Regions from separate parts of the Homo sapiens genome. Here regions 1 and 3 are each linked to region 2. The links come from fine-mapping of genetic effects on gene expression. A gene starts in region 2. Each other region holds a variant in brackets. All regions are shown on one strand. Distances are from middle to middle.

The links. PIP is the estimated chance that this variant, and not a neighbour inherited with it, causes the effect. A credible set is the group of variants that fine-mapping cannot tell apart.
Region 1: its variant is the best candidate, but not a certain one, in a credible set for the expression of CCDC85C in whole blood (TOPMed, PIP 0.63).
Region 3: its variant is the best candidate, but not a certain one, in a credible set for the expression of CCDC85C in whole blood (TOPMed, PIP 0.89).

The regions. Positions count from the first base shown.
Region 1 is chr14:99,523,881-99,526,667 of GRCh38, reverse strand. The region is part of intron 2 of CCDC85C (coiled-coil domain containing 85C); the gene reads left to right. Among named protein-coding and RNA genes, the nearest start is that of CCNK, 44 kb to the right of the region's middle. The variant T/C (reference allele first, on the strand shown) is at 1,260.
Region 2 is chr14:99,603,068-99,605,705 of GRCh38, reverse strand. CCDC85C (coiled-coil domain containing 85C) reads left to right here and starts at 1,499. Exons shown (of 6, transcript NM_001144995.2): 1 at 1,499-2,539. The coding sequence starts at 1,747. It also overlaps a transcript of HHIPL1 not described here. RefSeq lists silencers at 295-444, 625-694, 755-894, 1,035-1,564 and an enhancer at 1,825-1,944.
Region 3 is chr14:99,516,859-99,519,645 of GRCh38, reverse strand. CCDC85C (coiled-coil domain containing 85C) reads left to right here. Exons shown (of 6, transcript NM_001144995.2): 4 at 2,463-2,558. Among named protein-coding and RNA genes, the nearest start is that of CCNK, 37 kb to the right of the region's middle. The variant T/C (reference allele first, on the strand shown) is at 1,334.

The DNA of each region.
Region 1 (2,787 bases), 79 kb after region 2:
TTCCTGGAGGGAGGTCGCCAGGTCTTGGGGACGGGGTGTTCCCTGGGCCCTGGCCTTGCCCCCACTTCCTCTTCCTGGAGGGAGGTCGCCAGGTCTTGGGGACGGGGTGGTCACTGGGCCGTGGCCTTGCTCCCTGGGTCTCACCTCTCGCCTCCGTAGCCCCTGGGATGATGGCTTATCTGTGGGAGTGGGATTGGTGGGAAATGTGAACTGGAAGGAGCTCTCTCCAGCTCCCTGTCCTCCAACCTGGCTCCCATCCCAGCCTGGGGACTGCACAGTGACCACGGGGACCTGGAGACCATCTTAGCACACGCTCAGGGCAGAGGCATTGTTAGTGCCTGCAGGAGCTGCACGGGGCCTGGGCTCATGTGGCTTTTTCCTGCCCAGGTTCCCATTGCTCTGAGGGTGGATGTAGGCCCCTCCCTGCAGACGGCACCTTCAAGCTCTTCAGCTGCGGTGAAACTGGCCTCTTGTGACAGATCCCCTGGAGCCCCCACAGGCCAGAAGCAGGAGGGCACCTGACCCAGGAGAGTCTGGGCTGGGGGAGGCCTGTGTTGGGGTCCTCTCCCTGAGCCCCACAGTGTCTCCCAAGTCAGACACAGTCATTGGCATGACCTAAATTTGGGAGGGGGAGAGGGATGTGGCTGCGTTGCTGTCCACTGTGGTCCTGGACCCTGGCCACACCTGGCTGTCCGGCTGAGCCGAGCTGTGCTGTGCCACACGGTGCCAAGGGCCCATGCTCACCTGTCAGCCATCCTGGAGGGTGCTGAGGAGGGAGGAGCCTCGCAGGTCCCCACCCATCCCTGCACCGAGCACTGAGACACCGGTCCAGAGTCGCGCCAGGTGGCCCCTCCACGAGGACTCCTTCCCAGGGCATTCTGTATGAATCAGCCTGGGGCTTCGAGTCTGGTGGTCCAAGTGGTCACTTGCGGGCAGGCTGCCCAGGTGGGGACACAGGGCACCCCCTCTTCAGTGCCTGCCTCCACCCGCACCCCCAGCCCTCACTCCCCTTTAGTTGCAGCCTCCCTGATGGGGCACAGCGTGGTGCCTGGCACACAGGAGGCGCTCTGTTTGTGCCTCTCGGACACATAACCGATGCAGCACATTTGAGGGCCCAAAAGCTCTCTGGGAGCAGGAAGCAGGGTGACAGCAGCTCCCCTAAGCACAGCCCAGAAAGGCGCTTCCTGCCTGCAGCCACCCCACCCATCCTTTCCAAACAAGCAGCCTCAGGTGGGCAGGCTGGGGTGGGTGGGCTCTGT[T/C]TCCATGTCTTATCCTCTTTCTGTTCAGCATCCCCTCTGACAATGCTCCCTAGGGGTCACCCCAGGGTGGCCCCACATAGGCCCCCTGCAGCTTTGCAGGCAGGCATTCGCTGCAGGACGGGGTTCCCCTCTGGGGAGAAGGCTGGGCCGCACTGCAGAGGCCCAGAAAGGGCTGGGGAACAACTGGAGTTCACCCAGCGAGTCCTCGCTGGGCCCTGAGTTGGGCAGTGTTGCAGTGAAGGCCCTGGATACAGGCTGGAGGTGTCCTGAACTCCGGTCCTCAGTGGAAAAGGAGGCCCTGCAACCTCCTGGGTCTCTTCCTCCCTAGTCCAGGACACTCATGCTGCCCTCTGGAGGCTCTAGAAGTGAGTAATGCGGATTGGGCCTGGCCAGGGTGGAAGGGGCCACGCTGAGTGTTTGGCAGGGCTGGCCCCACCCTGTTAAGGATTCGGGAAATCTTGTTTGAGCTCTGAGCTGGCAGCTCTGTGTGTAAGATCCCTTCTCCCTGGGTCCTGAGGGAGCCACCCGAGGAAGACTGGGCAGGTGGGTGTTTCTGGGGAGCGGCAGTGGACCCCCTGCCTCCCCCTGAGGAAGGGCCAGCACCTTCCTTAGCTGGGGCTCTTCTCTGTGTGCAGAACAAGCCCAGCAGGTGATTTCAGCTCCTGCTTCCCCTCCTCGGGGAAATCCTAGGGAATCTCATTCTGCAAAGGCAGCGACCTGTCTCATAGCAGGATTTTTAATTTGGATTTAAGTGCAATAATGGTTACTCATTTGATGCGCCATTAGTCACATTGCCCCTTAATGAGAGATTGTGTGTTTTTCCTGCCTGGCTTTGTGGCTTGCTAATAAAGTTCTATGGACATGCAAATGTTTATAGAGGCTCACCGAAGGCAAGGGTGGGAATTGCGTGCAGCTAATTAAAAACCTCCCTCACGCTCACGCACACACATCTCCTCCCAGGGAAATTATCTGGGGGAGGGGAGGGGACGGCAGCACAAACCTGCGTTTTCGGTAACAGCACGTGGGAGCCCATTTGGTCGAGGGCCAGAGAGGATGTGGAGGAAGGGACGCCGGAGTCCAAACAGAAGCTGAGCAGGGCAGGGCAGGGCCGGCTGAAGGGGAGGGCAGCTGTTCCAATCCCAGGTGTACCCTTCCTGGCTGTGTGGCCCAGTAGTCAGACTGTGTGTATGTGCACGCACGCATTCAGAGTGTGTGCTGGCTTAGAATGCATTCTCCATTGGAGAAGATTTTGTAACTCTCTTACTGTTGCAGAGTCCTGGCCAAGAAAATCAGGTGGTTTGGAATTTTCGCCCTTAAGTGGAGCTAGGGGTACATCTCTCAGGAGAGGTGACCCAGAGAGGCATGGGTGGCTCTGATGGGGTGGGGGGAGGGGTGTCACTCATGGTTGGGGGAGGGTGAGTGCTGGGCCTAGGGGTGGGGGCTGTAGCCTCTTCCTCTTTTTGGTACCTGGTGGGTGGGGAGGGGGCTTTCCTTGATCTGACCTCCACCTGCGGGCCGTGAGTGCCTC
Region 2 (2,638 bases):
ATGACAGCAGCTCGACTTAATGCCCCGCACAGCACTTAAGACAAGTCTCATCCTGATCTAGCTCGTCTATCTTCTCCCCATCCTGCTCCCAGGACGCCAAGTCCCCCGCAGAGGGCAGTTCGGTGCCCTGCAGAATCCCCCGGGGCTGGAGCAGGCCCCGCGGCGAGTAGGCGCTGAGTACACAGCTGAATGAACGGCTTAGCAACTGTAAATGGGGCATCAGCTGCTGCGCGGGCGCGCGCTCCAGGCCGTGGGCCGCTCACTGTCGCGTGCGCGGATTTGATCTCGTTGCAGGTTCCGGGGGAGGGACCCCCCCCCGCCCCGCCCCGCCCCGCCTGCTGGCGGTAGACGCGCCGTAAATGCGCTTTGGGGACCGGAGGATAACGAGACAGACTTACAGGCAGTGGGAAGCCCGGGGGTCCCGCGAGGCCGCCGGTGGGGAGTTCTGTGGCCGGCTCGGCGCCCCCGGACCCCGGCGTTCAGGCCCCAGTGGGAGACCTTCCCACCCTTCCCAGTGGTTTCCACCCCGCGAATTGCAGATTATCTCCCGAATCCCAGGGATTTAGCGGTCGAGTGAGCGGAGGTGGAGCGGGGCTCCGAGCGCCGCTCCGGGCAGGGGGCAGGTTCCCGGAGCTCTCGCCCCATCGGGGCAGAGAGTACTGACCGCGCTGCGGGACGCGGCTGGCAAGGCCCTGGCCCTGCAGGGGCGCGGACGCCAGCGTTTAGCTCAGCCCTGGGCTAGGAGTGGAGACGCAGCCCCGCCGCGTGCTCCGGCAGGGGACCCGGGTGGGGACGGGGGCGGAGGAGCCTGGGGGCAGGGAAGGGGACAAAGAGCCGCCCTGCTGCGGGGAAGAGCGACCCCCATGTCACAGTCCTATTGTTCGCTGTGTCTCCGACTGCCCTGAACTCTGGTGCCCCCGGGAGGGAGAAGGGGCGCCGTCGCCCGGATCGTGGGTATTTGTTTATCTGGGGAGAGGGAAGAGGACCGGGGACGCGGGCCGGGGAGGGGGCTCGACTGCTATTTTCGCGCGTCGCCTTTAAGGGAAGCCCGGCCCTACCTTTCCCACCGTCCCCCTCCCCGCAGCCGTACCTGCATTTTAAAAGCGCCCTGTAGCCCTGGGATTGGCTAAGGCCGCGTCCTCCGGGCGCAGAAACTTGAACCGCCGGGAGCCGGCCGCGGGCGGGGGTCGGAAACCCCGCGGATGGACCGTACCACCGCCGCAGCTTCCCCCGCGCGCGCCCCGCCCCTCCCGCACACCCCCGGAGCGGCCCAATCGCCCGGCCGGGAGGGCGGGACCGCGGCCGGAACGCGCCTCTGAGAGGGCACTGGACGGGCGGGCGCACCGCGCAGGGGGACGGCGGGGGCCGCGCCTCTGCTCCCCAGTCGCCCTCGGGGGCGGGGCCGGGCCTCGGAGACCCGCCCACTCTCCGCCCGGGGTGGGCGGGGCGGCGGGGGCTCCGGGAGCTGGGCCGGGGGCGGGCCTCCGCCTGCTTCTCCAGAACCCTGAGAGCGCCCGGCACCGCGGCCGCCGACGCAGCAGCCGCCTCCGCTCGTCAACCCCGAGGCGCGCGGGCTCCCGGGCGGCCCCGGCGGGCGCGGCGAGAGGACGCGCCAGGCGGCGCGGGGCGGGCCGCACGCGCCCCCGGCCGCCCCCCGCCCGCGCGCGGACCGGCCCAGCGGAGCCCCGGCGCGGGGAAGCGCCGGCCGGGCGAGGGCGAGGGCGATGCCGCGGTGACGGCCCCGCCATGGCTAAGCCCGCGGCGACGGCGGCGGCGGCGTCGGAGGAGCTGAGCCAGGTGCCGGACGAGGAGCTGCTGCGCTGGAGCAAGGAGGAGCTGGCGCGGCGGCTGCGGCGCGCCGAGGGCGAGAAGGTGGGCCTCATGCTGGAGCACGGCGGCCTGATGCGCGACGTGAACCGGCGGCTGCAGCAGCACCTGCTGGAGATCCGCGGCCTCAAGGACGTGAACCAGCGGCTGCAGGACGACAACCAGGAGCTGCGCGAGCTCTGCTGCTTCCTCGACGACGACCGGCAGAAGGGGCGCAAGCTGGCGCGCGAGTGGCAGCGCTTCGGGCGCCACGCGGCCGGCGCCGTGTGGCACGAGGTGGCCCGCTCGCAGCAGAAGCTGCGCGAGCTCGAGGCGCGCCAGGAGGCCCTGCTGCGCGAGAACCTGGAGCTCAAGGAGCTGGTGCTGCTGCTGGACGAGGAGCGCGCGGCACTGGCGGCGACGGGGGCCGCAAGCGGTGGCGGCGGCGGCGGGGGCGGCGCCGGCTCCCGCAGCTCCATCGACAGCCAGGCCAGCCTGAGCGGGCCGCTGTCGGGTGGCGCGCCCGGCGCGGGGGCCCGCGACGTGGGCGACGGCAGCAGTACGTCCAGCGCGGGCAGCGGCGGCAGCCCCGACCACCACCACCACGTCCCACCCCCGCTGCTGCCCCCCGGGCCGCACAAGGCCCCCGACGGCAAGGCAGGAGCCACACGTCGGTCCCTGGACGACTTGTCGGCGCCGCCGCACCACCGCAGCATCCCCAACGGCCTGCACGGTAAGGACTACACGGGCCGGGCAGCGCGGGTCTCCCTGGCTGCAGCCCTTTTCCCAGGCTGCGGCGAGAGGAGGTGGTCCCTGGCTGTCCCACTCATGC
Region 3 (2,787 bases), 86 kb after region 2:
CATGTTTGGGCTCACATGAATGGTGTTGCTCTGAGCGTTTGGCGACAGGTATTTTGTGGATGTCTATTTTCAGTTCTCTCTGGTGCACACTGGTATCCTCACTTTGGGCACCAGCTCAGGAGTCCCACAGACTTGGGTTTGGCGCCCAGCCCCATTGTTTACAAGCTGTTTGGTCTTGGGCAAGCCATTCTCTTAGCCTCACTCTCCTTGTCTGTAAAGTGGGCATGTAGGCCAGGCTCAGTGGCTCACGCCTATAATCCCATCACTTTGGGAGGCCAAGACAGGAGGATTGCTTGAGTCCAGGAGTTCAAGACCAGCCTGGGCAACATGATGAAACCCCATCTCTACCAAAAAAAAAAAAAAAAAGCTGGGCATGGTGGTGTGCATCTGTAGTTCCAACTACGCTGGAAGCTGGGGTGGGAGGATTGCTTGAGCCTGGGAGGTCAAGGCTGCAGTGAGCTGAGATGGTGCCACTGTACTTCAGCCTGGGCGACAGAGTGAGATCCTCTCACTCAAAAAAAAAAAAAAAAAAAAAAAAAAAAAAAAGGCATGTATGAACATGTAAAAAGATAGTGCCTGCTGGGAGCAGTGTGGCAAGGACTCAGTGGGCCCATCTGCCCTAAGTGGGTACCTAGTCAGTGGGAGGTGTGTGTGGCCCGAGGGGGCTGAGTTCTAGTACAGGTGGGGGCCCCTGCACCCCGGGAATGCCCTGGAGGTAACACTAGGGCTTTGTCTAGTCCTGGTGTCACTTTCAGGATCCCGGGCCATGCCCTCGCTGGCACCCACCACTGCCCAGTGAGGCGGGCAGGAGAGGGGCGGCTTGCACAGCCCACCCCCACGCTCCTGGCTTCCCTCCTGCCTGTGCTGCAGAAATCCCAGCCCCCTAGAGCCGGGGGCTGTAACAGGACAGGCAGCCCAGGGGCCTGGTGCAGATGAGGCCAGAGGTGCCAGGGGCCGGCTGGCACATGGCCTGTGTTCTGCAGCGGAAGGTGCAGGAAGGTGTAGGTGCCCAGGTCTCCCAGGGCCGTATGTGTGCGACTGGCGCCCCCTGCTGTCTGGCGCGGGGAGTGCCGCCTTGCGTTGCCCCAGGGGGAATCCCCAGCGTCCCTGTTGGGTTCCCTACACTACAGAGACCCAACAGCCTGGGCTGGAGTTAGGGGTCTGCACACACCCTGGGGCAGAGGACCCTTTCTATTGTCCAGACGAGGAAACCGAGGCTCAGCGTGGGTTGAGCCCCACCTCAATGACGCTTTCCTAGACCCCAGGGCTCGGGGGGCCTCCGGAGGTAGCAGCTCCCAGGCCCCCTAGCCTCAGGGGTGGGGCCTGGTCTCCA[T/C]GTGGAGGCGGGAGCCGGTCAACCTGCAAGGCCCTGGGAGCAGGTCCAGGCCAGGGCGGGCGGGGAGGGCACCAGGGGTTGGCTGCCAGGCCTGCAGGGGGTTCCAGGTCCTGAGGGTCGCAGAACCCAGCCCTGCAGTGTTAGGTGGCCCCATGATGCAGGCCTGGGTGGGTGGGATTCCAGCCCAGCTCCCTGAGCTTGCCAGGCCGTTGGGAGGCGTCATCAGGGCCCCATTTACAGAGAGGGCGGCAGACTCAGCTTCCATGGTTGGCCCAAGGATTGCCAGAGGTGGGAGCCCCGAAGATGTCCTGGAAACCCCGCTTCCAGGGCCCACAGGGCACCGCTGGGTGTTTTCTGTCTGGCTCTGGGCACTTGTAAGTTCCTCCCAAGCCTCTCCCAGCATCTTGTGACCTGCTGGTTTCTGTTGGGCCCCTGTGGTCCCCACTGCAGCCCGAGGCAGAAGCCCTGCACCTGGCTTCCCAGCCACATGGACCCTTCCAGGCAGGAAGCTGGGGGTGGGACTGCCTGCCCCTGGGTAGACACGCAGCTTCTGACAGAGGCTGGGTCCCCTCCCCAAGGCCTGATGTGGGAGCTGGGCACCTGGCAGCCAATTCATCCCGCAGGGCTGGGAGGTGGCAGCTGGGAGGCAGGCCCCAGGGAGTGCTCAGGGCGAAGCCGGCCTCGCCCACCGGTGGCTCCAGGGTGGGCAGGGGAAGGGAGTTTGGAGTCAGGTGCCAGGGTTAAGTCCAGACCTTCCTGGTCTTGCTGTGATCTGGGTCTCTTGCCCTCCCTAGGCTGAACTTACTTTCCTTGCAAAACAGACGCTAGGTCTTATCTGTGGGGTGTTGTAGAGGAGCCTGAGAGGTGTGGGTGGGCCCTGGACTGCCCCTCTTGCCTCTGTGCTATCAGGGACCATTTCATCTGCAGAAGACCTGGTGGGCGGGACTGGCCAGACTGGCTGTGGGCTCCTTGGGTCTCCATCCTCACACCTGCCTCCTCTGCCTCACCCCGGTCCCCTTTTCCTCCTGCCTGGGCCCTGGCCCCTCAGAATGGGGGCCTTGTCTGAGCCACCGGTCATTCCTGTGGGAGCCAGCCAGGGTGAGCTGAGATGTGTGATTGCCTTCCCCAGGGCCCGGCCTGCCCCGCACCTGAGCTGCCCTCGCCCCCCTCTGCTGGCTACAGCCCTGCAGGACAGAAGCCCGAGGCTGTCGTGCATGCCATGAAGGTGAGGGCCACTACCCGCTCCCTCAGAAGTCCTCAGATGCTGGGTGCACTGTGAGACTGTGGGACCTTTGCACCTAGGGGTATCCAAGTGGCAGGGGTGGGAGGTTTCATCTGTGTGTGGGTGGCTGGGTGACCATGGCTGCCTGGAGCACTGTGAGGTTGAACTCAGAGGTGGCAGTCATAAGTGTGTCACCTGTCTGCCATCCCTGAGCTACTGCACCTAACAAGAC